5 separate regions of the Homo sapiens genome follow, and all the other regions are linked to region 3. Evidence: fine-mapped expression QTL. A gene starts in region 3. Each other region holds a variant in brackets. All regions are shown on one strand. Distances are from middle to middle. Region 1 has its middle 47 kb from the start of KDM7A-DT. Region 2 overlaps LOC124901758 (a long non-coding RNA gene). Region 3 holds the start of KDM7A (lysine demethylase 7A). Region 4 holds the start of LOC124901757 (a long non-coding RNA gene). Region 5 holds the start of LOC107986854 (a long non-coding RNA gene).

Region 1 (5,941 bases), 48 kb before region 3:
GGGGGCCTCTCTTTTGAGTCAAAGGCGGTTTGGAGGTCTAGCACAGCCCTGCTTTGCTCTGGACATGATTCAATGAAAGAAGATAAAAAGTAACACCTGGTAATAGTAAAATAGTAACAAATGGTATTTATTAAATACCTACTGTGTTCTAGGCACTGTGCTAGGAGATTCACATGCTTTATGTCATGTAAGCCTATGATGTGGGTTACTATTATTAGTCCCACTTTACAGGTAGGGAAACAGCCACAGGGAGGTTAAGTTGTCCATTACCCAACTAGGAAGTGGCCCCATGAGCAGAGGACTCAAGCTTCTAGTGTACTCAGCCACTGGAGGATGATCCTTTTGTGCTGAGATTCAGTTTACGAGTTCTATTATGGGGGAAGTTGGGGGCTTCCTGGTCTCAATCTATCTAAGGCCAGCTTGTCCAGCCCATGGGCTGTCTGCGGCCCAGGACAGCTTTGAATGTGGCCCAACACAAATTTGTTAACTTTCTTTAAATGTCATGAGACTTTTTTGTGTGATTTTATTTATTTATTTTAGTTCATCAGCTATTGTTAATATATTTTATGTGTGGTCCAAGACAATTCTTCTTTTTCCAGTATGGCCCAGGGAAGCCAAAAGATCGGACACCCCTGATCTAAGAAGAAGGAGGAAAGGACTGGCTGGATCAATGGGAGAGGGAGAAGAGATAAGGCTCAATTAGTGAGCAGGGATCTGTGCAAAGGAATCAGGACATAGGCACAGCAGCACCACAGGGTGACAGGTGTTAATGTGGGGGCTGAGGGGAGGGAGCAAGAGTACCTTTCAGTGGGTGTGTGTTCAGGGAGAAATGAAGAGAGTTGGGGCTGTTGCAGAGTTGAATTGGGAGCTCTGGGAGCAAGTGTACCAGTCAGTATTATAGGAAGGCAGCCATGTTAAGACACAGGACCTGCAGGGTGGCCAATTTGTTTTAAAGTATATGACAATAACACTCCACAGTTTTAACAGTTTGTTGGGCTAAATTGTGTTCCTCCTACTGCTACTGCCCCCCGCATTCATATGCTGAAGTCCTTACCCCCAGTACCTCAGAATGTGACCTTATTTGGAAATATGGTCATTGCACATGTAATTAGTTAAGATGAGTTCATACTGGAGTAGGGTGGTCCCTGATCCATTAGGCCAGGTGCAGTGGCTCCTGCCTATAATCCTAGAACTTTGGGAGGCTGGGGTAGGAGGATCGATTGGGCCTAGGAGTTTGAGACCAGCCTGGGCAACATAGTGAGACACTATCTCTACAGAGAATACAAAATTTTTAACAAACTAGCCAGGTGCAGTGTCATATGCCTGTGGCCCCAGCTTAACTCAGGAGGCTGAGGTAGGAGGATTGCTTGAGCCAGGGAGGTCAAGGCTACAGTGAGCTATGATTGCACCACTATACCCCAGCCTGGGTAACAGAATGAGACCCCATCTCAAAAATAAAAATAAAAACTAAAGAAGGAAATTTGGGCACAGATATGCACACAGGGAGAATGGCATGTGAAGATGAAGGCAGAGATCAGGGTGCTTCTTCTACAAGCCAAGGAACCCCATAGATTGCTGGCAACCACCAGCAGCTCAGGGAGATGCCTGGAACAGATTCTCACTCACAGCCCTCAGAGGGAACCCATCCTGCTGACATCCGGATCTCGGCCGTCCAGCCTCCAGAACTGTGAGACAATGCTTTACTGTTGTTTAAGCTGCCTAGTCTGTAGTACTTTGTTACTTTGCTCTAGCAAAGTAATACACATGGCAACGTATCTGATGACAGCTCTAGCTGTGATAGAGCCCTGAGGTTTTTGAAACCTGCCTTTGTAGAGGCTGAGAAAATCTGTTTTCTTTCATTTTCCTTTTCTTTTTTTTTTTTTTTTGGTTTCTTTTTTTGAGACAGGGTCTTACTCTGTTGCAAAGACTGGAGTGCAGCAGCGTGATCATGACTTATTGCTGCCTCTACCTCCCAGGTTTCTCAGTAGCTGGGGCTGCAGACACACACCACCTGCCTGGCTAATTTTTTAAATTTTTTTTAGAGATGAGGTCTCACTATGTTGTCCAGGCTGGTCTTGAACTCTTGGGCTCAAGTTATCTGCCCACCTTGGTCTCCCAAATTGTTGGGATTACAGGTGTGAGCCACCATGCCTGGTCAGGACTTGTTTTATATAAAATTATCTCTAACAGAATGCTACATGTACATAGCTATAAAAAGCAAAGTAGAATAAATACATAAAAAGTATAATGAAAAATTACAATTGCGCTTAGCCTCTTGTTCCCCAAGGCTGTCTTCCTGAAGGCCGGCACTGCCAACTCTGTAGCCATTTTTCTTGTATTTTCCACCATTTTTCTAAACAATATGCTTACATTACTATTTCTTTTCTTTCCTTTTTTTTTTTTTTTTTTTTTGAGATGGAGTCTCACTCTGTTGCCCAGACTGGAGTACAGTGGGGTGACCTCAGCTCACTGCAGCCTCTGCCTCCCAGGTTCAAGCAATTCTCCTGCCTCAGCCTCCCAAGTAGCTGGGATCACAAGTGTGCGCCACTATACTTAGCTAATTTTTGTATTTTTAGTAGAGATGGGGTTCCACCATGTTGGCCAGGCTGGTCTCGAACTCCTGACCTCAGGTGATCTGCTTGCCTCAGCCTCCCAAAGTGCTGGAATTACAGGTGTGCTGGAATTACAGGTGTGAGCCACCACGTCCAGCCACATTACTGTTTCTTGATTTTCGACTTTGCACACTACTTGTTAACTTCCAATCATGGTAGCGGAGGAAACGCTCTCCTTCCTATACCCCCTTCTGTATCCTTGTATTCCAGTACTTTATGAAATAAATGACAACTGTTCACATTATTAGGAGGAGGTATGTAGTGTTAGGAGGGGGCATGGCTCACCTCTGAGCCATGTAGTGTTCTAGGACAACACTCTGTGATTAAACAACCCTTTTCTCCTTCTGGACTTAATGGCAGTTTCTTTTTTGCATTTGTCTGATTTTCTCTGAACCTATGTGTTCCCCCATTGCCCTAGCACCTCTGCCACACTGCAATCAACAGTATTTTTTGACTCTGAATGCTTTATTTTTTTTTCCCTAGGTGGTCCCTCTGGCCTCCTCCTCCAACGTGGACAGAGGTGCCTTAGGCTGCAGCGTGGCCCAGCTCCTGAGAGGGAGGAGGAGGTGTCTTTTGAAAGTGGCCAGCAGTTTTCTGGGTTTGGAGGTGGATGTTTCAGTTCACTGTGGGGGTGAAGTCCTTTGGTTTCATGAAGGCCTCCGGGACAGGCAGCTGTGCTCTCTTGTTGTTCCCCTCTGAGGGGCTTCACAGTTCTGGCTTGGGCGTGTTAATCAGGCATTCAGGCTGAGGCAGTCCTGAGTCCAGGGGAGATGTTGTCTGAAGGTGTGAACGGCTGAGCTCACTCCTGTGGAAACTGAT[G/T]TTTTTGTCAGTGGTTGTTTTTTTGGCAGGGTGTGGGAGTTGTTGCTGAAAGTTGCTTGCAGGAGATAACGGAGTGGCTGAGGGTGGAAGGTGCATTTTCTCCATCCGTGCACAGAATCAGCACTGCTGGGTCACGCAGGGTGTAGGGATCTAGAGCACCAACGGAGCCCCGGACCTGGAGCCTGGCAGCCCCATGGGCACTGTGTCTTAGAGGTAGTGGCCCCAAGGCTCGTATTGGTGGACCTCAAGCCACAGAAGACAGGCCAGAGGAAGGATACAATGATGACTGGGACTGATTGGTTCAACAGATGTCGGGGACCCTTTTGAGGACTCCCTGAAAGACCCAGGGAATACTTCTGCAGGGCTGGGGCTGAGGGCCTGCGCTCATCAGGGGCCTCAGAATCGTTGTGACATGGGGTATCCGTGCAAAGGGATCTCACGTCTCCCCAGACTGCTGGACACTGGGTGTATGAGCATATTCCCTTCAGAATGATTCACAGCGATAGGCAGGGTATTTTTACCCCCATTGACAGCCAAAGAGTCTGAATCTCAAAGAGGCTTCAGTCCTTAAGTGGCAGAAGTGGAATGAGACCCCAGGTCAGGTGCTTTCCCACTTCCACAGAAGATAGAAGTCACGTTGCTAGAAAGTAACAGGGGAAGTAACGGTCCCATTGGACCATTTAGGGTCCTAGGAATGAAATATTTATTATGTTCAGTTCTGGGAATCGCGTTTTAAGAGAAGCAAGAACTTACTTCCTACAGGGAAATCAGGTTCGTGAAAGAGACCGGGGGTGCCTTTTCTGGCTTTTGTAACATCAGAGGGTCCTCCCCAGTCAGTGTTAGCAGCCCTGGGAAGCAGAGTTCTCTAGGGCTTCCAGACTCGACCCCAGTGTTGTCACCGGGCACCATGGTATGCTCAGTGCCATGGGCAAGCGTGGCTGTCATCTGCCCAGGGCCGTCGCCTGTGTAGCTAACGTCCTCTGTAGACAAGCACCCCTCTGTTGCAGCCTCATAAGCAAGGTGATTGTAGATGTCATGCCTGACTAGTTCACCCTTCTCAGGAAGTGAACTTCCTTTTTACTCAGTTTCACAAATATGGGGGTTCATGCAGTCTCCCCTCCCATCCCAGCCAGCTGCCCTGACAGTGGGATAAGGCGCTGACAAGCGGCCGTGTTCCCTCTGCGAACAGGGACAATGTCCCCATGAGTGCTCCCTTCCCAGCTCTGGGGCTAGAGTGTGAAAGGCAGGGTAGCGCTTTAGTGACTGGGGGGCTGTTGATCTCAGACACCAGCTGCTGTGATTCCTAGGACACTTCTTATCAGTGGGACACGAATGGGGGACTCCCACGTTCTGGTCTCTCCAGTCAGGTTGAATTTGTTGTTTTGTTTTTATTTTTGTTTTGAGACAGAGTCTGGCTCTGTCGCCCAGGCTGGAGAGCAGTGGCGTGATCTTGGCTCACTGTAACCTCTGCCTCCCAGATTCAAGCGAGTCTCCTGCCTCAGCCTTCTGAATAGCCGGGATCACAGGCACACGCCGCCACACCTGGCTAATTTTTGTATTTTTAATAGAGACGGGGTTTCACCATGTTGGCCAGGCTGGTCTTGAACTCCTGACCTCAGGTGATCCGCCTGCCTCGGCCTCCCAAAGTGCTGGGATTACAGGCGTGAGCCATTGCGCCCAGCCGAATTTGTTGTTTTTTAACAGGAAAATCCTTACTGAAGTTTCAAGATTCCCATTCTAATGATTTTTAAATCTCTATTGAATTCAATGAATTCAAATCTCTCTCTCTTTTTTTTTTTTTTTTTTTTTTTTTTTTGTGAGACAGAGTCTCGCTCTGTCGCCCAGACTGGAGTGCAATGGCATGATCTTGGCTCACTGTAACCTCTGCCTCCTGGGTTCAAGCGATTCTCCTGCCTCAGCCTCCTGAGTAGCTGGGATTATTGGCACATGCCACTACGCCTGCCTAATTTTTGTATTTTTAGTAGACACAGGGTTTCACCATGTTGGTCAGGCTGGTTTCGAACTCCTGACCACACGATCCGCCCACCTCGGCCTTTCAAAGTGCTGGGATTACAGGCGTGAGCCACCATGCCCGGCCTCTAATCTGTTTATGTTTACAGATTTGTTTTTGCCTCACTCACAGCTACTATTTGTATTTTTACTGAGCTTCTTTGGACAAGGTTAAGGAGCTTCTTTTCCTGACTTCTGTTGATTTTTGGTGCTCCGTGTTTGGAGTTCATAATTACACAACCTCAGGGGTTTTCTGGGGTTAGGGGAAAACAGCAGCTTGAAGGCTCAGGAAGTGGCTGGAGTTCTGGAAATAGAGTCCAGAACATAGACTTAGAAAACCCTGATGAACCTGTGTGACCTGGTCCTCCAAGGACTGAGCAATGTTGCCTCTCCTGGCTCTGGAAACACAGCACACGGGGGCTTCCAGAGTGAGCAGGAAGTTGCTGGCCATACCTTCCCAAGCCCCAGAGATGCATTCAGGCTATTTGAGGATTGTCATT
Region 2 (5,941 bases), 130 kb before region 3:
TTCCTTTGCAATGTTATTCACTCTGACTCTAACTTCAGGTTACATTGTGCTGTTCTTTGCTCTTTAATCTCACTCTGGCCTTTCACCAAAAGCAGTAAAATCCGACTTCTGTATTAAATGGTACTTGTATATAATATTATTTGGGTAAACCAGATGTCTAATAATTGCAATATATTTTCATATGATTGTTTGAAGAGTTTCATGGAAAAAGTGCAAGCCCCTCAAACTTCCCGAACTGTGTGAGCTGTTTACTGTTGAGAACTTTCCAGAGGAAAGTTGGAGGGAGCAGAAAGCTGAGGAGAAGGAGCTGGACTTTGGGCTTTGTTTGCCTGTACTCTCTCCACTGTTACCTTCAACCTACATTTCAGCTCCAGTCCATAGGAGTCATTTGCAACCATCTGTTTTCATCTCTTTGCTCCCAGGAGTGCGGAAAAAGGCAAGAGCAGGGAGGAGCTGAAGTTTTGCAGAGGTTAGGGAGAAGGTTGGCTTGACCTAAGTGGAGAGAGAGGAGGGCGGGTTTTTTTTGTTTTGTTTTGTTTTGTTTTTTTGTTTTTTTGAGACGGAGTTTTGCTTTTGTCGACCAGGCTGGAGTGCAATGGCATGATCTTGGCCCACTGCAACCTCTGCCTCCTGGGTTCAAGTGATTCTCCTGCCTCAGCCTCCTGAGTGGCTGGGATTACAGGTGCCCACCACCGCACCCAGCTAATTTTTGTATTTTTAGTAGAGACAGGGTTTCACCATGTTGGCCAGGCTAGTCTCAAACTCCTGGCCTCAAGGGATCCACCCGCCTCGGCCTCCCAAAGTGCTCGGATGACAGGCATGAGCCACCGTGCCCGGCTGAGAGCTGGGATTTGAACCACTGTCAGTTCCTGAACAGAGATTTAAGAGATTGATGAGCACTAGATGAAATCTTAATCCTCCGTCATTGCTGGTGCTTATGTAGACGTGGGAGAATAGGAGGATAACAGTATCCAAACAGGCTGATAGTATTTCAGGAGCTTCCATGGGTTGCTTGAGTCCTCAGGGCTAGGCATGGTGCTAACAGCTTTATGTGCATGCGGCACCTGCCGGCTGCCCTGCTTCTCTATCCTATGTGCGATGGGAATTCATTCTTTTACCTGGCCTGGGCTCTTCCATTTTGCTTTTCAAAAACCCACATTTACAATAGACTCTCATTTTTACAGTAAAGCGTACCATAGAATCACTTTACATTGCAAGTTCTCCCTCCTCCTATAGTGCAATTAATCTACTCTATTCAATTGGCAGAAAGTCTGTTTACAAAGAGCTCTGTGAGAGGACACTTGTCTTCAAAGCACGGAAACAGAAATAACAGAAAGACTCAGCTTCATTGATGGCCCACTTACCGCAGGCAATATTTAATGCAATATAATTAATTGTACTTCTAGAAAAGACTGGACTGAGGGCCTAGGAGCTTTTTATAACCGATTGAAAGACACCAGAGACTCTACCCCTAATGTCCAGCCAGAACCCGCCCCTAGCCCACAATACAGCCAGGCGCACTTTTTTTTTTTAAGCTATCCATTTAAAAAAAAAGATTTTCCAAGGCGAGCACATTATTTCCTTTGTTAGTTTGGATCAGAGTCTGATATCCCTAACAAGTCAAAGTTGTTCTTTTTAGCCCTTCCGACAATTTGAGTCTGTTCCTTTGAAGTTGTGCTCTCGGTGGAGATGGAAAAGAGACTCACCTTTCAGCGTATGGAAACTCTGTTCCATTCCTGTGAACTGTTAATGCGCACATTTAAATCATTGCTACTTTCTTCTCTGGTGTTAGTTTCTGACCTCTTGGTTATTTTCTGTTTTCCATTGGACTTTTCGGTTGCTCCCTGTTTCTTTTTAAAAGTAGCACCTCAGTCTGTTCACACTAGAAAATGTTTGGCTTATTTTGCATGTCCCTTTTCTCAAAGGATAAAGGGAACAACCGTTCCTACGAATTGCTGACATCTCTGTGGAGGCCAGCTGCTAAGTGAAGGAAAGCGTGGCCGTGACTTGCAGGAGATCAGAGGCCCCCAGGCTCCTTCAGGCCAACCGACATCCAGATGAGGGCTTCTTGCTTCTTTTAGATCCATGCTCTGAACCCAGATGATGGTCTTGGATGGCTGCTGTAGTCAGGACTCTAGCCAACCTAACCCATGTGCCTTATGTTAACTTACAGTATTAAGCAAACATTTGCTTGTTAATCTACAATCTTTTTTTTGTTGTTGAGATGGAGTCTCACTCTGTCACCCAGGCTGGAGTGCAGTGGCATCATCTCGGCCCACTGCAGCCTCTGCTTTGTGGGTTCAACCAATTCTCCTGCCTCAGCCCCCTGAGTGGCTGGGACTACAGGCACCTGCCACCATGCCCGACTAATTTTTGCATTTTTAGTAGAGACGGGGTTTCACCATGTTGGCCAGGCTGATCTCAAACTCCTGACCTCAAGTGGTCTGCCTGCCTCAGCCTCCCAAAGTGCCAGGATTACAGGTATAAGCCACTGTGCTTGGCCTAATCTGCAATCATTATTCCAAGTTCTTGCCACTACCCTTAAGCAGGTTCTATGTGAGTGGTCCTCCTGATCTGCAGTGGACTGCTGCTTTAACTTGGCTGAATAACAACTATTATACCACACCCTTGTGTCCTGCAATGCAGTTTAGACACATGAGAAAATAGTACGAACCTCAGCCCAGT[T/G]CAGTGGCTCATGCCTGTAGTCTCAACACTTTGGGAGACCAAGGTGGGAGGATCACTTGAGCCCAGGAGTTCGAGACCAGCCTGGCCAACATAATGAGACTCTATCTCTACTAAAAAAATAAAAAAAATAAAAAAATAATTGACCAGGCATGGTGGTGCATACCTGTGGTCCTAGCTACTCGGGAGGGAGGATAGGAGGTCCAGGCTGCAGTGAGCTGTGATCATGTCACTGCACTCCAGCCTGGGTGACAGAGCAAGACTCTGTCTCAAAAAGAAAAAAGAAAAAAAGCCGGGCATGGTGGCTCATGCTTGTAATCCCAGCACTTTGGGAGGCCAAGACAGGTGGGATCACCTGAGATCAGGAGTTCAAGACCAGCCTGGCCAACATGGTGAGACCCTGTCTCTACTAAAAATACAAAAATTAGCTGGGCATAGTGGTGGATGGCTGTAATCCCAGCTACTTGGGAGGCTGAGGCAGGAAGATTGCTTGAATCCGGGAGGCGGAGGTTGCGGTGAGCTGAGATTGCGCCATTGCACTCCAGCCTTGGTGACAGAGCGAGACTCCGTCACACACACACACACACACACACACACACACACACACACACACACACAAAAGAGGATATAGAACCAGCCCTGTAGATTTTGTGCCAGCTCTCAGGGGACTTCCTGCACCACTTGGACTATCATTCTTCCAGATCAGGTGTCCCCAGGGATCGTCTGCAGTGGTTACAAACAACACTTCACAAAATGTTAATAGCCACGAATCTATTTTAATGTGTATTAGAAAAAAATATGGCTGGGCATGGTGGCTCATACCTGTAATCTCAGCACTTTGGGAGGGCGAAGTGGGCAGATCACTTGAGCCCAGGAGTTCAAGACCAGCCTAGGTGACATGGCAAAATTCTGGCTCTACAAAAACACAAAAATTAGCCAGGTGTAGTGGCATACGCCTGTAGTCCCAGCTACTTGGGAGGCTGAGGTGGGAGGATGGCTTGAGCCTGGGGGGCAGAGGTTGCCATGAGCTGAGATAGTGCCACTGCACTCCAGCTTGGGCAACAGAGTGACACCCTGTCTCAAAAAGAAAAATTATAACATGCACATAAAACCTGAGACATGCATTTCTTTTCAAAAGTCATCAAAGTTAAAAAGTGAGTCCTATTTAGAGACTATTAACCAAGTAACTCTAGGAGGCAGTGTGTGACTACGGAGAACACCCTGAAGGCCTAAAACCCCTTATGGGGAGGCTCTGAAGGCCACCCCAAGCCCTTTCATTTTTCACTCCTCCATCTTCATTACTCCTTCTCTCTCCAAGTTCTTCATCTTCTGGGCCTGTTTCTCCTTCCCTTCCTCCCTCTAAGCTTCTCTGGTGGTGCCCTGGGTTTTAACAGGGAGAAGGAAAGAGGCTCACATTTAGTGATCATGAATTACTTGCTAGAAGGTCACAGATGTAAGGCAGATACTGTCTACTAGTGGGGCTTTGGGTGATTTCTCTGGAGTACTTTTTGAATTTGCATGTGTGAGTCACCTGAAGATCTGGTTAAAGTGCAGATTCTAGCCCAGATGGTCTGGAGTGGGGCTGAGATGTTTTCATTTCTAGCAATCTCCAAATGATGCTGCGGTGGTTGGTTCGTGGGCCACACTTGGAGTCACAAAGGTTGATCATGGAGCTCTATTTCTTTTTTCCTTTTTTCCTTTTTTTTTTTTTTTTTTTTTGAGATGCACTCTTGCTCTGTCGCCCAGGCTAGAGTGCAGTGGCGCAATCTCAGCTCACTGCAACCTCCCCGCCTCCCGAGTTCAAGAGATTCTCCTGTCTCAGCCTCCTGAGTAGCTGGGACTACAGGCGCATGCCACCACGCTCAGCTAATTTTTTGTAATTTTAGTAGAGGCGGGGTTTCACCATATTGGTCAGGCTGGTCTCGAACTCCTGACCTCAGGTGATCCACCCACGTCGGCCTCCCAAAGTGCTGAGATTACAGGCGTGAGGCACTGCGCTAGGCCATGGAGCTCTATTTCTTTAGAGAACTAAGAACAGAGAAATACATATTTTAGGAAGAGGATGAGTTCTGAAACCACCTCTATCATCTGCAGTGAAGCCAATTATTAAGAACACTTAAGAGTCTAGCATGTTTTGCTCTCTGGAAGAAATATAAGATGGTTCCTTTATACTGACCAAGGCAGTTTGTAATGAAAACTGTTGGCTCAACTTGTTGCTAGGGTACCGCTGGGGAACTGGCACACAGAAAATCTGTAACCTAATGTGATTGTGTGGGAACTAATGAGCTCTGAACATGACAGGCAGGGAGGGTTCTGCTTCCCTCCTTTGCTCAGGTGATGGGCTAACACCCATGTCCAATTAGGCAAACCTGGCATGTGTAGCCATTCGGGGCTGCTGCAGAGCTGTTTCTCTGGGTAGAGAAAATTGGATTGTTGAATTGTTCCAAATATATTGGTATGCTCCCGTCTCCCATCCATTTGGTTATGATAACCAGACCTGCAGACACGTTCTGAGGGTTAGAATAGCTCCAGCATTTAGAAAACAAGCCAGCCAAATACAAAAGGACCCAGATTGAGGTTATATGAAAATTGATGGACGTGATTCAGGACCTTGCTATTTTAAATGAAATGACCTTCACCTGAAGAGATCAGAGGGCGACGCTATTAAGAGGTGTTGCACTTTTACAGTATTCTTTCTGTTAGGGCAGAAAAACTTATGGAAGGAAAAAGGCAAAGTGAATCACCTTTTCTTAAGATTCAGCTGGAACCAGACACTTAGCAAAAGTGATGCTCTGCAGCTGACACAAGTAGCCACATGATTGTGGAATGATAGTGCTCCAAAATGTTCTTGGGGGCTGGATGTGGGGGCTCACACCTGTAATCCCAGCACTTTGGGAGGCCAAGGCAGGCACATCACTCGAGGTCAGGAGTTCGAGACCAGCCTGGCCAACATGGGGAAACTCCGTCTCTACTAAAAATACAAAAATTAGTCAGGTGTGGTGGCAGGTGCCTGTAATGCCAACTACTCGGGAGGCTGAGGCAGGAGGATTGCTTGAACCTGGGAGGCGGAGGTTGCAGTGAGCCGAGATTGCACCACTGCACTCCAGCCTGGGTGACAGAGGGAGGCTCTGTCTCAAAAAAACAAACAAACAAAAAAATTATTGGGTATTACTGAGCATGATGGTGTTTAATTTTGGGAGGGGATGGGGGTAGTTATTCCGGACTCCCTTCCCCTCGAATACACACATGCATAATCTTC
Region 3 (5,941 bases):
AGCTGAGATCGCACCACTGCACTCCAGCCTGAGCGACAGACCCAGACTTCATCTCAAAAAAAAAAAAGAGAAAAATATCTGAGACTGTGTAATTTGTAAAGGAAAGAAGTTTAATTGGCTCATGGAAGGCAGGCTGTACAGGAAGCATGATGCTGGCATCTGCTCAGCTTCTGGGGAGGCCTCGGGAAACTTACAATCATGGCTGAAGACAAATTGCATCATATAGCCGGGGCAGGAGCAAAAGAGAGAGGGAGGAGGTGCCACATATTTTTCAATGACCAGATTTCTTAAGAACTCACTCATTACCACGGGGACAATACAAAGTGGATGGTACTAAACCATTCATAAGAAATCCACCCCCATGATCCAGTCACCTCCCACCAGTCCCCACCTCCAACATTGGGGATTACAATTCAACATGAGATTTGGGTGGGGACACAGATCCAAGTCATATGGATAACCAATCTCTCATTGTTGCTGCTGCCTCCTGCTCTGCTGGGCTTCCTTCTTCATACCCCTGCCTAGTCCCTCCATGTTAACATAGCAAGTCCAGGTGGCCCCCAGAGGACATCCCACAACAGGCTGCTTTGGTGCTCTTTAGCCAGACTCCAACAAGACAGCTTTGCATGCCTTCTCTTCACTGCTGTATTGTCTCGACAACACACACCTTCAACAAAGTACATTTAAAAATACATTGTCTTTTTGCTCCATGTAAAACCTCTGTGAGATAATTAAGGCATTACTAGCCATATTTTTTCTTTCAACAGATCATCAGTGATCTAGTTCAGGAGAAATGGAGTGACTGGCCCGAGGTCACAGATTATAGAAAGCAGGACCTGAGTGCATGGGTCTTTCCACTCCAGCAATATGTGATGCCTATGCCAAAATTACAGTACCTTTTTTTCTCCAGTAGAAATATGTTTCAAGCTTAATCAGTGTGTGGTCAACTAATTTCCAGCCTTTCCTTTTCCCGCTATATATATGCCAAACAGTGATGTGATAGAAAAACGAATAGTTGCAGAATTGAGACACTTAAAAACTTCAGTTACAGCTCTAATATATGAGACTTCAGTCAAGTTACTAGCTTTCCTCAACTATAAAAAGGAGATTAGGCAGGACTTGGTGGCTCACGCCTGTAATCCCAGCACTTTGAGAGGCCGAGGCGGGCGGATCACTTGAGGTCAGGAGTTCAAACAGCCTGGCCAACATGGTGAAACCCCGTCTCTATTAAAAATACAAAATTACCCGGGTGCGGTGGCGTGCGCCTGTAATCCCAGCTACTTGGGAGGCTGAGGCAGGAGGATCCCTCGAACCCGGGAGGTGGAAGTTGCAATGAGCCGAGATCACAGCACTGCACTGCACTCCAGCGCGGGCAACAAGAACGAAACTCCGTTTCAAAGAAAGAAAGGAAAGAAAGGAAAGGAAAGGAAAGGAAAGGGAGGGAGGGAAGGAAGGAAGGAAGGAAGGAAGGAAGGAAGGAAGGAAGGAAGGAAAGAAAGGAAAGAAAGAAAGAAATGGAGAATTAGATCAGCGACTCTTTGCCTGGGGGTGGGTGACAGAACAACACTTCTTCCTCCCCTAACAAAAATTACCTATGGAGCTGTGAGGGCTTTCCCCACTGATAGAAATGCCAGCAGAAATTCAGCTACAAATACTCAATCCAATAATCCTTAACATCACTTCCAATCCACAGTTATGATTCCAACGCAATCTTTTCTATACAGTATTTGTCAGCTGTTTTTATTCTTCAGTTTATCATCTTATATTTGGCTCTCAATTTCACCCATAAATTATTGATGGCTTATTATACGCCAAGTACCCTGCGCTCCGCTTTTTGTGGTATCCCTCTTCGGAGCGAGAAGTCACTTAGAATTTTACCCCATCTTCCCCACTTGGGAATCGGAAGGGTTCATAGCTAAGTTTTGTTATTTATAAGCACGCCGGCTCTTCTCTATCCCTCTCTCCACCAACCCCATTTCAAGGTTGGTCCCTCCCAGCGGACGACAGTGATGAATTCCTCTTGGGGACAGCCCTCCCGCAACTAACGGTGGCTCCATCGACGCTCTGGTCTCCTTGCTGCTCGCTGGGAATTCGGGTGGGACGTTTTCCAAAGTTTGGATTCCACGGCACATTCCTCCCTCGGAAAGGCACAACCGGCTCGGCGTGTCAGCTCAGCTGGACTCACGCCGGTGCGGGGCCGCAGCTCCGGTTCTCGCTGGGCGGCTGCGGAGGGCTGGGCGATTCTCTCAGCGTCGCGAGGCGACCCGGGCAGCAGCAAACTTCTCCGCTTCCCCTCTTCGGGACGCGGCACCTCTTCTGCCCTTGAGCACTCCGCAGGAACTTCCCCCGGCCTCGGCTCTCGCTCCGAAATAACCGAGCCAGCTCCTCGCACGCTCCCGCCGTCCTCCTCCGGCTGCGGCCGCGCGCCCGCCGCCACCGCCACCACCGCGCGTGTCCTCACGGGGCCTCAGCTCCCTCCGCCCCCGCAGCCGCCTGCGTGCCCTTCAACAGCTCCCTCCGCCCGGCCGTCGCGGAGAGGAGCGGGGAGCGCGCGCCGGCGCCAGAGACGTGCGCGAGACGCACGGCCCCGCGCCGAGCGCCGGAAGCAGCCGAGTCTGGGCCTCGCGCGTCGCGCGCGCCTCCTCCCCCTCCGCCAGCCGCCGCGGCCTCGCGCGCGCGCACTGAGGCGCCGCCGCCGCCGCGGCTGCTGCAGGAGGCGGCGCTGGCTGGCGGCTGCGCTCGCTCCAGTCGGCGAGCGGAGTAGCGAGCGAGCGTGTGTGTGTTTTTTAAAGATGGCCGGAGCGGCGGCGGCGGTGGCCGCGGGAGCAGCAGCTGGAGCCGCCGCGGCAGCCGTGTCGGTGGCGGCTCCCGGCCGGGCCTCGGCGCCTCCGCCGCCCCCGCCCGTGTACTGTGTGTGCCGGCAGCCGTACGACGTGAACCGCTTCATGATCGAGTGCGATATCTGCAAGGACTGGTTCCACGGCAGGTAAATAAACCCCCTCCAGCCCCGCAGCCGCCACCGCCGGCCACCGACCAACCGCCGCCGCCGCCGGCCGCCCGCGCCTCCCTCGGGCCGGGCCGCCGCGCCGCGCCCAGCTTTCAGGGGGCCCCGGTGCCTAGCCCCCCGGCCGGGCAGTGGGGCGCGCGGTGCCCCGGGTTCGCCGGGCGGGCTCCAGAGGGGAGCCGGTGGGCTCGCCTGGCCCGGGCGAAGAGTCGCCACAACAAACACGAACAAAGAGGGCCGGCGGATAAGTTGGCAGGGGGAGCCTGGGGCGAGGGGACGCGGCCGGGCGGGCGCGGCGGGGGCGTCGGGCGGAGCGCCGGCCGGGTCCGCAGCCCCTCGCCAGCCCGGGCCGCCGCCGCCCCGCCCCGCCCCGCCGCGCCCGGGGCTCCGGCCGGAGTCGCCGGCCGCCCCGCCGCTCTGCCCGGCCGGCCGACGCGCCTGCCTTCCTTCCGGGCGGCGATGGGGTCGCCCCGGCCCCGCGTCTCCTCCGCGCCGCGGGTCCCTGTCGCGCCCCCTTCCCCGTCTTTATCAAACTTCCTGGGCCAGTGGGACGGGGGCAGCGGCGGGCCGGAGAGGCGACCGCGCCAGCCAGCTCGGCGGGGCTCCGCGGAGTAAACAGAGCAACAGATGAGGCACTCGCTCTCGGGGACTTGAAAGGTGCCGGGGAAGTTGGGGCCGGGCCCCCGGCGGGCGGCAGGTTGACCCGGGTCGCGGTCCTGGGCCCCCGCACACACCCGGGTCGCCGGGACTGGGGCAGATGGAGTGGGTTGCGGCGGCCCGAAGGGAACGCTTCTCCGGACCCCCTGCGTTGCCCTCGCGCCGCGGCTTAAACTTTACAAAGAGTGCAGTTGCCATCGCTCGAAGCTGGCGACACCGGGACCGCCTGCGGCTGTGCCCGGGCGCCGGTGCCGGCGAACTTGAGTCGGCCGGGCGGACGCTGCGGGGCCGGCTGGCGGCGGCGGCGGACGCTGCCCTCTGATTCAGCCGCCGCCGCGCTCCGGGTTTGACGTTTGAGAGCTCGGGCCGCCTCCGCAGCCAGGCCGCCGACTCGTGTGTTTTGTAATCAAAGTGTGAGGCTAATAAAGGGCGGCGCCACAGCCTCTTGACTCCGGCGTGGGAGGGATTCACAGGCATTTAAACAAAGAAACTAGTTGGGGTTGGGCTCCCAAAGTCCTTATTTGGGTGTTGTGGCAAAGCCTGCGGTCACCTTTAGTTGAAGCCGGTTTCCCGGGCCCCGTTTGGTGTTGTCTCTTGGCGAGAGCACGCTCACGAGTAATAGCAGATATGGTGACTGTGATTGTAGGAAGTGTCTTTTGATTGACAGCAGGACATTTAAATACAGCCTCCGCTCCCCCCCTCCCCAATTTTACAGAAACACTACAAGACCAGGCCAGATGTCTTAGTCTCCCTCTACTGGTCCAGGGAGAGAAAACCATGTAAATCACAATGTTCTTTGCAGTGTTTAGTGCTAGGTGTAGTTAAGTTTTACTTAATTTTCAAGTACAGTTTTACTTAATCAGTTTTCAGGCTAGCCGATTCTCACAACAGAAAACAAGACACAGTAAATTATCACTTTAAAAGAAAGGCAGCGTCCTCGTTTCGTATAATCTTTAGCAGTCTTGTATATCCAATTCTATTTCCACATCCTGTTTCCATAACATATTCTACGCAACTAGAATAAAGATTATCCGAACATTTAGGTTCTATATAGAATAAAATCAGAATCCCTGGTGATTATGTAAATGCTTATTTTTTTTCAAAGAACTATTTTTTGAAATTTGAGGCGGTTTAAACTGCATAAAAATTTGTCTCGCCAGGCTTGGTGGCTCACGCCTGTAATCCCAGCACTTTGGGAGGCTGAGGCGGGTGGATCACGAGGTAAAGAGATCGAGACCATCCTGGCTAACATGGTGAAACCCCAACATGGTGAAACCCCGTCTCTACTAAAAATACAAAAATTAGCTGGGCGTGGTGGTGCATGTCTGTAACCCTAGCTACTTGGGAGGCTGAGGCAGGAGAATCTTTTGAACCCGGGAAGCGGAGGTTGCAGTGAGCCGAGATCGCGCCACTGCACTCCAGCCTGGCGACAGAGTGAGACTCCGTCTCAAAAAAAAAGAAAAAAGAAACTTGTCTCATTATGCAATGCGGATTTGATAGGCTACCAAATTTTAGACTAGAATTGTATTTATCTTAATTTAGGTCACTTAACACTATAACCATGAAAAGCCCCAGGTATTTGATGGAGAATTTTGTAATACATGTAAGTATACACTTGTAAATAGGGAAATAGGAAATACAGAGGGCTTACGGGAAGGAGGGAGAGCAAGGCCAAAACAAATATGCCCTCTCTGCTTTGACACATAAATTTGTGTAACTTTATATCTGTGGAAGTGAGTCTAAAATAGGTTTTTTTGAGCCCAGGGTCTTTTTGACCATCAATCCTTGAAACTTATGTGGTTCAGATGTCAAAAGTTAGAAAATTTAGCTATATTGTCCTGCCCTACAAAAGCAGTATCTTTTTATTAAGTTTAATTCTTTTTCTTTTTCTTTTTTTTTTTTTTGGAGACGGAGTCTCGCTCTGTCACCCAGGCTGGAGTGCAGTGGCGCCATCTCTGCTCACTGCAAACTCCGCCTCCCGGGTTCAAGTGATTCTTCTGCCTCAGCCTCCCGAGTAGCTGGGATTACAGGTGCCCGTCACCACGCCTGGCTAATTTTTGTATTTTTAGTAGGAACGGGATTTCACCATGTTGGCTACACTGGTTTCGAACTCTTGACCTCAGGTTATCCGCCCACCTCGGCCTCCCAAAGTGCTGGGATTACAGGTGTGAGCCACCCTGCCCGGCCTAGTAAGTTTAATTCTTAAGTATTGGTAATTTGGACTCTGTATGTTTTTCCCGTGGTATTTACTCTGATGTTTACTGTACCATAAAATGAGTG
Region 4 (5,941 bases), 95 kb after region 3:
CTTACATTGATTATTATAGGGGAGGACAAGTGACTTGTTTAAAGTTGTATTTAGTATTCTTTCCAATTTCTGTATTTTAAAATATTGAAATTAAAATTGTATTACTTCTGTTTTGATTTTTTTAGCACTTAGTGTATTTTTTGCTCATTTTGTTTGAAAGTATAAATGTTGAAAATTGTATAAAATGCGTCCTTGAAAGAAAAAGAATCTGAATTCTATATCCAATTCTGACTTTGTTCCCTTTTTCTGCTGATTGAATCATGGGAAATTATTTAAAAGTATGAAAAACTGGGTTCAGCGTCTGCTCCTTACTACTTCTGAAGACTTCAATGTGAAAAGTAATTGTCTTATTTTATTAGCAGTATTGCTGGGGATGAGTGATTGCTCAAAGAGAGGGAAGAATACAAAAGTGTAATTGGCAACATGAGGCTGAAACGTAGAAACGGATGTGGGTACTTGGCTAATGAACATTTCAGCACACTCACAGCCCCTGCCCAGGCATCCCACAAATATTTCCTAACACCTGCAGTACAGTAGGCACTGTTTTAGCACTAGTGCTGCAGGAGTGAGCAAAACCAAGTCCCAGGCCTCAAGGAGCTTGTGTGAGACACAAAAGGCAAGTGAGAGCCAGGGGTGTGGTGGCCTGGCTGGCTGGTGAAGGTGAGAGTGTTAAGTGCACACTCCGTGAGGAAGATGAGCTCAGTTTTGGACTCAGGGTCTGAGAGACAGGGATGATACGGACCAGGAAAAAGATCTGTCCTTAGAGGAGATGAGAGAGGAACTCTGGACCAGGAAGGAAGGAGCCCTGCAGGCATCACTTCCAGGGCAGAAGAGAAGCCTAGGAAGGAGACAAGTGGGCAGGAAGTCTGTTCCCGAGGAGAAACTGAGCTCAGAGTCCCAGAAACCAAGTGACCAGAAGGACCAAAGACCATACCCTCCCTCCCCCTAATATCTGCAAAAGAACAGGGACGCCAAAGCATGCACACTTAAACACACCTTGAGAGCTGCTTCCGCCCCTAGAACGGAATCCACAAAAGCAGTTTGCATCTCCTGTGTCTGCTTTCATGAAATTGGTTGAAATCTAAATCTGAACAAATCTGCTTGTTTTGTGAAAATCCATATACTATTTGTAAATTTGTGGGTTGTCTGCCCTTCCCAAAGCTCATACGTTAATGAAACAATGATCAGGACCTACTCTTCTTAGACTTTTCAGCTGATTTTTGTGGTTTCACAACAGTGAGACAGCATGAGACACATCACTGTGGGATGTTGATGATAAATGCCAATTATTTTACAGTAGGAAGGATCAAATGCTATGTTACAGACAGGATTTGAAACAGGAGCCCTTACTATCTTTTATTTCATTCCATTTGAGTACTTACTGTGTGCAAGGATATTTTTATTTCTTTCTCAAAATAACCCAGCGAGGTAGGTACTACATTCCTCATCCTACAGATGCATCCAAGGCTCAGAGAGGGCCAATGACACTTCCAGGTTCACATGAATACAGACATTTTCAGTCTGTCTGACTCTAAAGACTATTCTAAGCTGTTTCTCTAAGTATTTTTAACTATATACTTTTAATTAAGGAAGGAATAGATGGTCCTTAGGAATGGTTGGTGTTGTAAAAATTTCTTTGCAGGCGCAACCCACTGTGGATTGAAACTGTAGTTTCTTGTGGAGGTTTTTTGTCACCAGAACCTCTCTTGAGTCCACTTTTCCAGGAGCTGGGCACACTGAAGAAACATCTTCTAGAATTGAGCTCACCTTCTAGTGAATAACATAGGCTGTAAATAAATGACATGTGAGAAGTGCTGTTAGGATACAGGAACCAAATGTGGATTTCCAGAGGCTCAGAGCTGGCATATGAGTAGAGGCCATGCCCAGTGCACCCCTTCCGCCCTTTCTGCTGGACCTAACCATGGCCCCGTGGGGCAGCGCAGCAGCCTCCTTCACAGCCTTGCCCACCCGGGCTGCTCCCTCCTCTCCTGCCCTGGACACCGAAGCCACATCCTGCCCTATCTTCTGCCCCAGCTCTGTAGGTGGTCAACCCAGATAAGGAGGAGAGGAAAAGGTCCTGCTCTGCCCACCATCGCTGATCCTGGGGTGCTGCCTACCCGTGCCTTGCAGAAGCACCATCCACATCTTCCTCTTGATCCACTCCTGGGCTCAAGTCTCTCCTTGCCTTGTCCAGACTCTTCCCAGCCTGTGTCTCCAAAATGCCTTTACACTTTGTAAAGTGCTAGTTCTGAAATTTTATAAAATCAAAAGTTTACATAAATCCTATGCCAGAGTTGAGGAAAAAAAAAAAAAAGAAGGATCTACAAGTGGAAAGTAATATGTGTAAATTCCCTACTTTTTTTTTTTTAAGGCAAATATGACCTGGGACAAAAGACTTGCAATAACAGTAAGAAATAGTATTTGACCCTCTCCTATGCATATTTATTTATTTATTTGAGACACAGTCTTACTCTGTTGCCCAGGCTGGTACGATCTTGGCTCACTGCAGCCTCCACATCCCAGATTCGAGTGATTCTCCTGCCTCAGCCTCCCGAGTAGCTGGGACTGCAGGCGTGCATCACCATGCCCGGCTAATCTGTTTTTTTTCTTGTTTTTTTTTTT[G/TG]TTTTTTTTTTTTTAAGTAGAGATGGCGTTTCACCATGTTGGCCAGGCTGGTCTGGCTCCTTGCCTCAAGCAATCCACCCGCCTTGGCCTCCCAAAGTGCTGGGGTTACAGGTGTGAGTCACCACCCCCAGCTTCCTATGCTCTTATTCTAGAAGCTGTCCTTCCGTTTCTGGGTGCCCTGGAGGAGTCTCGTACATCATATATCAATCCTACCACCATCCTCTCACCTCCCACTTACCACAACCTCCAATTGCAGTTTTCCCATCCAACCTCTAATCTTTGCAAATTTTTGTTTTTTTTTTCCTGAGACAGGATCTTACTCTGTTGCCCAGGCAGCAGTGCAGTGGTGCAGTCACGGCTTACTCCAGCCTCGACCTCCTGGGCTCAAGCCATCCTCTCACCTCAGTCTCCCAAGATGCTGGGACCACAGGCGTGCACCACCACAGCCAGCTAATTTTTAAATTTTTTGTAAAGAAAAATGTTGCCCAGGCTGGTCTCGAACTCCTGGGCCTAAGCAATCCTCCTGCCTTGGCCTTCCAAAGTGCTAAAATTACAGGTGTGAGCCACTGCATGCAGCCCAAATTTTTGTCTCTTACCCTTTGGGACCTGTATTAGGGTTCTCTAGAGGGACAGAACTAATAGGAGATAGATTAGATAGATAGATAGATAGATAGATAGATAGATAGATAGATAGATAGGAATTTATTAACTCAGTATCACAAGGTCCCACAATAGGCCATCTGCAAGCTGGGGAACAAGGAGAGCCAGTCTGAGTTCTAAGACTGAAGAACTTGGAGTCCGATGTTCGAGGGCAGGAAGCATCCAGCATGGGAGAAAGATGTAGGCTGGGAGACCAGGCCAGTGTATTCAACGTTTTTCTGCCTGCTTTATATTCTAACTGTGCTGGCAGCTGATTAGATGGTACCCACTAGATTAAGGATGGGTCTGCCTATCACCTTTGATCTTGTGAGTCTTCATTCTAACCTGTTAGACTCCATGGAATCCGAGGGCTAGGAACACAGACTGCAGTCAGAGTCAAGTGGGTTAAATTCTGGCTCTACCTTTACTAACTGGTCCTGGGCAAATTATATAACCTTGCTGTGCCTCAGTTTTCTGCGACATACTTATCTACCTCACTAGGCTACTGAGTGATTAAATAAATGAAAACATATGGCACACTCAAGGACAGTGCCTGGCACAAGGAGACGCTAACTACTAGCCATCAGATCAAGCTCCTCTCTGTGCTGCTGTATCGAATGCCATCTGAGTTCCACCAGCTGCCAACCAATGCACTTACTCAAGCTACTGCGACGAGTGTGAACACGATTAGACTAAAGGCAGGGCATCCACAAGAGAGCAAAGGGCACGGCTGCCTAAGGGGACAGAATCCTACTGGAGAAGGAAGCCAGAGTCCAGACATAAGCCTGGGAAAGTGCAGAAATCCTGGGACATGGGCTAGGGAGCCTGAGGTATCTTTCAGTTTCTGGAATAAGGCTACCAGGTGGTTAACAGTGGCTGGTTACCTCTGGGAGGATGGGAATCAAAAGGGAGAGATAATTGATGCTGGGCATTTTCACACATTTTACTTTTATGTTTTTGTGGAATTAAGAGAGACAAATGTGTTCTACTGTGAGGTATGTGTTAACTGCGCCCAAGACACACTAATCACACCATCATACCTGTGCACAGCCCGCAAGAAATCAGCCTGCCTGCTCCTGGTGTGTTGCACTGACAGCCCAGTGGGATGGGGTGGGTCAGGGCTGGTGAATGGGGCACGGTAAATCCCAGGGAGCTTGGCTGCGAAGCGCTCCCTCCTCCGCTGCTCTCTACCGAGTCTGGCTTCTATTCCTACCCTTTTCACTTTTTTGGTTACTTTTCCATGTTTCGTCTGTCTTTCCTACCAGCCTGAGTTTAAGGCTAGGATTGGTATTCTCTTATCATCAGCACCTCCCACACATTTTAGTACAAATCTCAAAATAACATTGAGTAAACCCATGAACATGGGTATTCCTCATGCTCTCTCTCCCTTTCCCCACCCCTGCGCACTCTTCGCTCTGCCTCTGGCAGCCATATGGGATGGGGGGAGTGGAAGAGAGAGAGTAAAGAGAAATGGAGAACAATGGGGAAAGAACCCTTTACAATTTGAGGATTCTGCCAACTATTAAGAACTGTAGAAATTCACCAATATGGTGTTAAAAAGAATGAGTATTTCAGGTTTCTTTATGAGAAAAAGGAGGAGGAGTAGATTTTCCTTTAATGAGATCAATTGTGTGAATGAGCTGGATTAAAAATATATACACCTCACTTAGAACCTAAAACTTAATTTTATTGTACTTGCTTTGTAAACTTTATATAGGTGTGCTTCACTTTGAAAATATCAAATATAGTCATGGTTAATGTGTAAAACTATAAAACAGATCAATAAGGTGGTATCAAGTTATGAAAGGACTTTGGCCACCTGCAGATGACACAGAACAGTATTTTCAGAGCTCAGGAAGCCCTCCATGGTTGCTGGGCTCTGCTTTAACTTCTGAGCGGTGTGATGCTTAGGAAAGCAGTTGCTCAGTGGTGCAGGAGGGCTTGCCTTGTAAGACCACAGGCAGCCCCAGAGTGGACAAAGATGTGAGTCTGGGCTGGTTAGGGAGAGAAGCCTGGCAGAAAGCAGGGTGAGCAGAAGGCAAACTCCTGCCTTGGTTCCTGCAGTCCACCTGAATGGACGCAGCTTGCGCCTCGGTATCTGGTTCCAACTCCCCTTCAGTACAAAACTTGCTTCCCTGTGAATGGGCCTCGACAATCTTCAGTTGCCCAGGCCAGGAGTCTGGGTGATCTCAAATCTTCCCTCTTCCCACCACAACCAGTGACTCTCAAAGGCCTGCCGGCTCATCCTCACGTGCCTCAGTCCACCTGCTCCTGGCCTCGCTTCAGCTCTCACTGGAGCTCTTGGGATCAAGACCAAAATCCTTAATGTGGTGAATGAGTCAGATGTAGATTCAGCTGTGAGGGAGAGAAAACCCAGGACACAAATGGCTTAAACAAGATAGAAGGCAGGAGATAGGTGTTCCAGGACTGAGACCACTTCCCGAGGGGGTCAGGGCCAGGATCTGCCCTCTGCTGGCCTGCCGTCCTTGGCACAAGGCTTCACCTCCCCATCCCAGATGGCTGCGTGCAGCCTGCAGCCTCCAGGGGGAGGAAGGGTGACCCTGTAATCACTTTATTGTCTAGTTTCTCTATTCTTGAGAGACTGAAAAGCCTGGACTTTGGAGGCCACAAGATTCGAGCAACCTAATGCCTGGCTGGCCTTGACAAGTTATTTAATCCC
Region 5 (5,941 bases), 54 kb before region 3:
AGCCAAATATGTAATTAAAAATGTCCTACTAGGCATATTAACGCAATAAAAGTAGAAAGCTGGGGCGTGGTGGCTCACGCCTATAGTCCCAGCTATTAAGGAGGGTGAGGTGGGAGGACTGCTTGAGGCCAGGAGTTTGAGGCCACCCTGGGCAACATAATGAGACCCCCACCTCTAAAACAAAATTAGCCAGGGGACGGTGGGGTGTGCCTGTAGTCCTAACTGTTCAGGAGCCTGAGGTGGGAAGATTACTGGAGCCCAGGAATTCCTGGCTGTAGTGAGCTATGATTGTGTCACTGTACTTCAGCCTGGGAGACAGTGAGATGAAGAAAGAAAAGAAAGAAAAGAGAAGAGAAGGGAAGAGAAGGAAAGAGAAAGAAAGGAGGGAGGGAGGGAAGGAAGGAAGGAGAGAAAAAGCTGAAATTAATTGTAATAATCTATTTGACTTAACCCAATAGATCTAAAATACTTTAATACATAATCAATGTTGAAAGTATTAATGATTACATTTTTTTCCTTACTGAGTCTTTGAAGTCCAATGTTTGTTTGACACATACAACACATCTCAATTTGGACTAGCCAGACTTCAAGTGCTCAACGGCCCCATGTGGCTAGTGGCTAATGTACTGGACAGCTCAGGTCTAGAAAGCAAGGGCTGATAAATGAAAAGGAAGCAAATAGCATCCATTGATAGGAATACAAGTTGTGTAGGATGTAAGCCACTGACTTTGAGTGCCGATTTCTTAGTTTTATTTTAGTGAAAATAAAATCAGTTCACACCCAGTATCAGTTCCCTAACCCTATATTCCCCTAAGGTCCCAGATTACTCAACATAGGATATTCCTACCACAAAGAGTTTTCGTTCCCTTTTGGACCCTCTTATGAAGAGTTGTCATTCTTCACATTCTTAGGCATGATGGACCTCTGAATGACAGGTTCCCATCTGACCAAAAAGCCTCCAATTTCAGCTTTGAGTTATTTCAGACTTTTCAGATGGAAGTCATTTTATATCTGTGGTTTCAAACCTGACCAGTCATCTAAATCACTTGAGTATTTAAAACAAAAAACATAACACGCGCCCTGGACCTGCTGAATCCCAATCCAGAGATGCGCTCGGTGATGTGTATTTTTAAACGCCTTCACAGATGACTGTGATGGGCTTTCAGCCCTGGGAACCACTGAGCATCATCTGCTTTGCTGAAAAGATCCAGAGACTTCATCAGGCACCATAGCAGAGACACAGCAAGGCCCCGACTGACAAATCCTCTAGGAGAAACACTCCTATTAAAAATGTTGTAGCCTTGGCCGGGCTCAGTGGTTCATGCCTGTAAACCCAGCACGTTGGGAGGCCGAGGTGGGAGGATCACCTGAGGTCAGGAGTTCGAGACCAGCCTGGCCAACATAGTGAAACCCCGTCTCTACTAAACATACAAAAATTAGCCTGGTGTGGTGGCAGGCGCCTGTAGTCCCAGCTACTTGGAAGCCTGAGGCAGGAGAATCGCTTGAACCCGGGAGAAGGAGGTTGCAGTGAGCCAAGATTACAACACTCCAGCCTGGGTGACAGAGCAAGACTCAAATTAAATAAATAAATAAATAAATAAATAAATGTAGCCGCGGGGGGACGGGGAGGAAGTTGTTTATTTCCTCATGGCTGGGATAATGGCAGTAGTGGAGGTAGAAGCTTCTTGGGTGCAGCCTATTTTAGGCAGGCCGAGCCCAGTCCATGGAACAGGAAACAGTATCTGCAGGTGGGGGACCAACATGAGAGAGGACCACGGGTCTCGAGTTGGCCTGAGGGTGTGGGTAAGGAGGAAATGCACAGTGGGTAACCCGCCCGCCCCTACACACATTCTGTTTTTTTACTTCTGGCTTTTCTGGCAGTCAGTGAACTCTCTTAATCTTAAGGCATGGCGTGTAATAGCAGAGCAAACCTGTGTTGCAAAGGGACAACCTGAAAGAGCATGACTGAAGGGGAAATAAAACTCACCCGGTCCTTCTGGATTTCAGTTTAATCACTGGGTGTGCCCTTGGCACCAGGATCATAAAACAGACCTGGTTTCCTTCCTTTGATGTAGTTAAAGAGCCCTGGATTTGTCGTCGGGGCACCTGAGTTCCAGTCCCAAACCTGTACTAAGCAGCTGTGCCACCATGTGCCTAGGATTTAACTTACCTGAGCCTCACTTCCCCTGCTGGTAAAATGAGTAATCAAACCCATCTTGTGGGTTACAGTGATGGCTGGGTAAAGTAATGCATGGGAAAGCAATTTAGAAACGATCAAACACGACACAAAGGGAAGACCACCGTTTACAGAAGGGAAAGTGACGCAGGACACAGAAAGCGGGAGAAACCGTTCGCCAGCTCCTAGATTCCTCACCTCTGCCCTCCC[C/G]CTGTCCTCCCTTCCCCCTCCACGGCAGGGGCCTTACCAACAGCAGGCGCTCTAATCCGCCTGGGCACACACCTGTCCTGGGCTGCTGGGAAGACGCCCCCCGCCCCGCCTAACAAACACACAGAAGTCTCCGGGCCGGGACACCATAAACGTTTCTAGTGGCAAGTCCTCACGGCCCGCGGGCTTCCATTGGCTCGGGAACCCCCTGAGCCTATTTTTCATTGGCTGGCTACTGCTGGGATGAGGAGAGGCAGTCTCAGCCGAGAGTCACTTAGGGCTGCGTGCCCTTTCCTGCCCACCTCCCCGAAGCGGCCCGGGAAGCCCCACTGCTCCCTGCGCGCTCCCTGCGCGCTCCCTGCGCGTCCCGGCCGCGCGCCTGCAGATCCTGCCCGCCCGGCAGCCGTCCCAGGCCGGGAAACAGTAGCCGCCACTCAAATCCGCCCCTTCATCGCCCAGTCCCGCAGTGGACATCTTTCTGGTCCCCCACCCAGAACTGAGCATCACTCCCCCGGTCACGCACATGAGCTGCGCCTCTGTCACTTTTGTCACTCAGTCCCCTTCCTAACTCCTCCCCCCACCCGCAGATTGAAGGGTGCAGTGATCTCCTGGCTCGGTCCCGAATAACGCTGGGTTTAAGTGCACTGGGCCCCAGTTGACAACCAAATAAAGTGGAAACACGTGCGCACCACTCACAGAAAGTATTTCCATTCCGCAGAAGCAACACCTACGGCCCCCACGCCCCCCAGCTCCGAGCCAGAGAACCGGCCCTCTAGGGAAGCCGCCGCCCTTCCCCATCGGGCTGTCATTGTTCCCCGGTCACTTCGGGCGGCGACCCCCACGGCCCGGCCCGCGCGCCCCGACAGCCCCCGCCCGCGGGACCAGCAGCCGCGGCAGGGCACGGGACACCCTTTCCCTGGCGGGGCGGCGTGGGGGCGGCGCTGCCAATCGCTGCGCAGCGCACGTGCTGCACGTCTGCGCATCCGGCCCCGCCCGGCCGGCGTGGTGTGGGGTTGCGGGGGTGCGGGGGCGCGAGGCGCAGCGGCGGTGTGGACGCGCGAGGGTCGAGGGATGCGCGCGTCGCGGGGTGGAGTGCGCGGTGCTTCGGACCCCGGGGCGGCGAGAGTGCGCCGGGGGGCAGTGCGAACGCCCAGGAGTGGGGAGTGCGCAGAGATCTGGGGGTGGCAGAGGACGAGCGCGCCAGCGGGGACCACGGGGGGACCCGAGGGCCCACAAAAGGGTCCGTTCCCCCCTATGCGATGGCTGAGCACCGGGAAACTCCCCAGCGGTCTCCGCCTGTCTCTATCCCTCTCTTACTAGAAACTTGCCACAGCTGGTGGGCGCGGGCCCGCTGCCCTGCACGTCCACCGCCAGATCAGCCCAGGGCCCGCGCCCGGAGGCCAGGGAGCTGGAGGTCAAAGCTTGGTCTCCTGACACCTGTTCAGGAGAAAGCGGATCTTTGTTTGAGGGCCCTCCTTCCGCCACCCACCGCCCCCGCCCCCAACCCCGCCTCCAGCCTAGAAGAGGAGTATTTCAGGTTGCGATTTTCAAACGGAATCATCAAATGTGTAAACTAAAGGGCGGAAGCCCAGGAGTCAAAACAGCCGTGGTATGGTCTTGACAGAGGGCAGAGAGGAAGAGAGGGGTGCCACCTGCTCAGGGCCAGACGCTGATTGAGGGCGCGCCCTGGGAGGGGCGCTTCCTGGTGCTCATTAGTGGAAGGGTGAAATGGGAAGGCAGCAGGGCCGACTTGCTCTCGGCAGAGGGACATTTTCATTCTTCGGTGTGCTGTTTGGGCCCCAGAGAGCTCCACGTCCCAGCGTGGAGGCCAGTGATGTAGCTGGAGCGAGCTGTGAGCTCCTGGAGCTGTTTCGTTGTTTACCCTCCTTGAAAGGAATGCTGTAACAACTTCCGGAAGAGGAGCCCCTTTGAAGTGTGGGCAGGATTGGGGTTCCTCTGACTTCACGTTGTCTAGGTGGCCCCTTTGATGTGGTGACAGGGCTTAGCAGAGACTGGCTGTGGGGAGTCAAACGCCAGTCCAAGGTCACCTCCACCAGGATGGACATACTGAAGGGCAGATTGAAATAGGCCAAAACGAATCTCAAAATTTTCCATTTCCTGGTTTGTTCATTTTTTCATTAATACAGTACGTACTTCTCAAATGTATCATTCGATTCTTTATAACTATGAAATGACGTTGGAAAACTTTGGGTGAAAATGCTATACCTACATTTATCTCATTTAATCCTCACAATAACTATTAGGTGGGTATTATCCCCACTTTATGGAAGAGAAATTGAAGGCCTAGGGTCACGCAGCTATGTGACTGAAAGCCTTCCTTCTTGAACTGCTCCTTCTCTAAAAGTTAATTGGTTTATTTAAATGAGTCAACCCACACAAAACAGATGGGTGTCTGGCACACGGTAAATGTGCAATGAACTGTTAGTTGTACTTGTCACCTTTTTTTGTTGAGACAGTGTTTTCCGTCTTACCGCGCAGGCTGGAGTGTAGTGGCACAATCTAGGCTCCCTGCAACCTCCGCCTCCTAGGTTCAAGCGATTCTCCTGCCTCAGCCTCCCAAATAGCTGGGATTACAGGCTCCCGCCGCCACACCCAGCTAATTTTTTTTTTTAATTTTATTTTGAGACGGAGTCTCGCTCTGTCACACAGGCTGAAGTGCAATGGCGTGATCTTGGCTCACTGCAACCTCCGCCTCCCGGGTTCAAGTGATTCTCCTGCCTCAGCCTCCTGAGTAGCTGGGATTACAGGCGCACGCCACCATGCCCGGCTAATTTTTATATTTTTAGTAGAGACGGGGTTTCACCATGTTAGTCAGGCTGGTCTCGAACTCCTGACCTCGTGATCCGTCCACCTCAGCCTCCCAAAGTGCTGGGATTACAGGCGTGAGCCATTGTGCCTGGCTTTTTTTTTTTTTTTTTTTTTTTTTTTTTGTATTTTTTAGTAGATACAGGGTTTCGCCGTGTTGGCCAGGCTGGTCTCTAACTCCTGACCTCAGGTGATCCCTACATCTTGGCCTCCCAAATTGCTGAGATTGCAGGCGTAAGCCACCGCGCCTGGCCTCTTGTCACTTTTTATTACAAATAAGAAGCTTAAACGTTCTCTATATTGCTGTGGCAAGTACTACAAGAGTCTTAGGCAGCAGATCGTGAAGAACTGTTTGAGAAATGTTTTAGGGTTTTGCTTTTCTCTGATTAGAACCATCTCCAAACGGTGTTGGAACTGGAGTTCCTGAGTAAGATGCTTTCAGACAAAATATACAATGTCTTTCTCTAGAGATCCACTCCTAGGCTTTTTGTTCCTTTCTTTCCCACTGTAGAACATTGCAAAAACAAGCTGCTGAGCCCTCAGCTGGGTGCTTGGGTGTCCCTGAGTTTAAAATGGAATGGAATATAGGTTTCTGTTTTTGCTTCCGTTGTTATGGCATGGGTAACGTAACTTGACTTTGTCTTTAAAAATTTCACAAAAGAAATCAACATTATTTACTAAATCACTTTTTAAACGTGTTTTAAAAGTGCTGCTTTTGGGTTGAAGGGTGTG

What was found.
Region 1: its variant is fine-mapped to the expression of KDM7A in whole blood (INTERVAL, PIP above 0.99).
Region 2: its variant is fine-mapped to the expression of KDM7A in whole blood (INTERVAL, PIP above 0.99).
Region 4: its variant is fine-mapped to the expression of KDM7A in whole blood (INTERVAL, PIP above 0.99).
Region 5: its variant is fine-mapped to the expression of KDM7A in monocytes (TOPMed, PIP 0.95).

Annotation. Positions count from the first base shown.
Region 1 is chr7:140,221,508-140,227,448 of GRCh38, reverse strand. No RefSeq gene overlaps it. Among named protein-coding and RNA genes, the nearest start is that of KDM7A-DT, 47 kb to the right of the region's middle. The variant G/T (reference allele first, on the strand shown) is at 3,432.
Region 2 is chr7:140,302,648-140,308,588 of GRCh38, reverse strand. The region is part of intron 1 of LOC124901758 (a long non-coding RNA gene); the gene reads left to right. Among named protein-coding and RNA genes, the nearest start is that of SLC37A3, 93 kb to the left of the region's middle. The variant T/G (reference allele first, on the strand shown) is at 2,686.
Region 3 is chr7:140,173,789-140,179,729 of GRCh38, reverse strand. It overlaps KDM7A (lysine demethylase 7A), which reads left to right and starts at 2,747. Exons shown (of 20, transcript NM_030647.2): 1 at 2,747-2,986. The coding sequence starts at 2,793. KDM7A-DT (KDM7A divergent transcript) reads right to left here and starts at 2,469. Exons shown (of 1, transcript NR_024451.1): 1 at 90-2,469. RefSeq lists silencers at 2,339-2,768, 2,809-2,908, 3,549-3,728, 3,739-4,018 and an enhancer at 2,191-3,114.
Region 4 is chr7:140,079,030-140,084,970 of GRCh38, reverse strand. It overlaps LOC124901757 (a long non-coding RNA gene), which reads right to left and starts at 2,174. Exons shown (of 2, transcript XR_007060559.1): 1 at 2,118-2,174; 2 at 1,383-1,787. KDM7A (lysine demethylase 7A) reads left to right here. Exons shown (of 20, transcript NM_030647.2): 20 at 1-225. The variant G/TG (reference allele first, on the strand shown) is at 2,623.
Region 5 is chr7:140,228,104-140,234,044 of GRCh38, reverse strand. LOC107986854 (a long non-coding RNA gene) reads right to left here and starts at 2,559. Exons shown (of 2, transcript XR_001745386.2): 1 at 2,424-2,559. RefSeq lists silencers at 2,623-2,672, 2,723-2,772, 3,353-3,512. The variant C/G (reference allele first, on the strand shown) is at 2,387.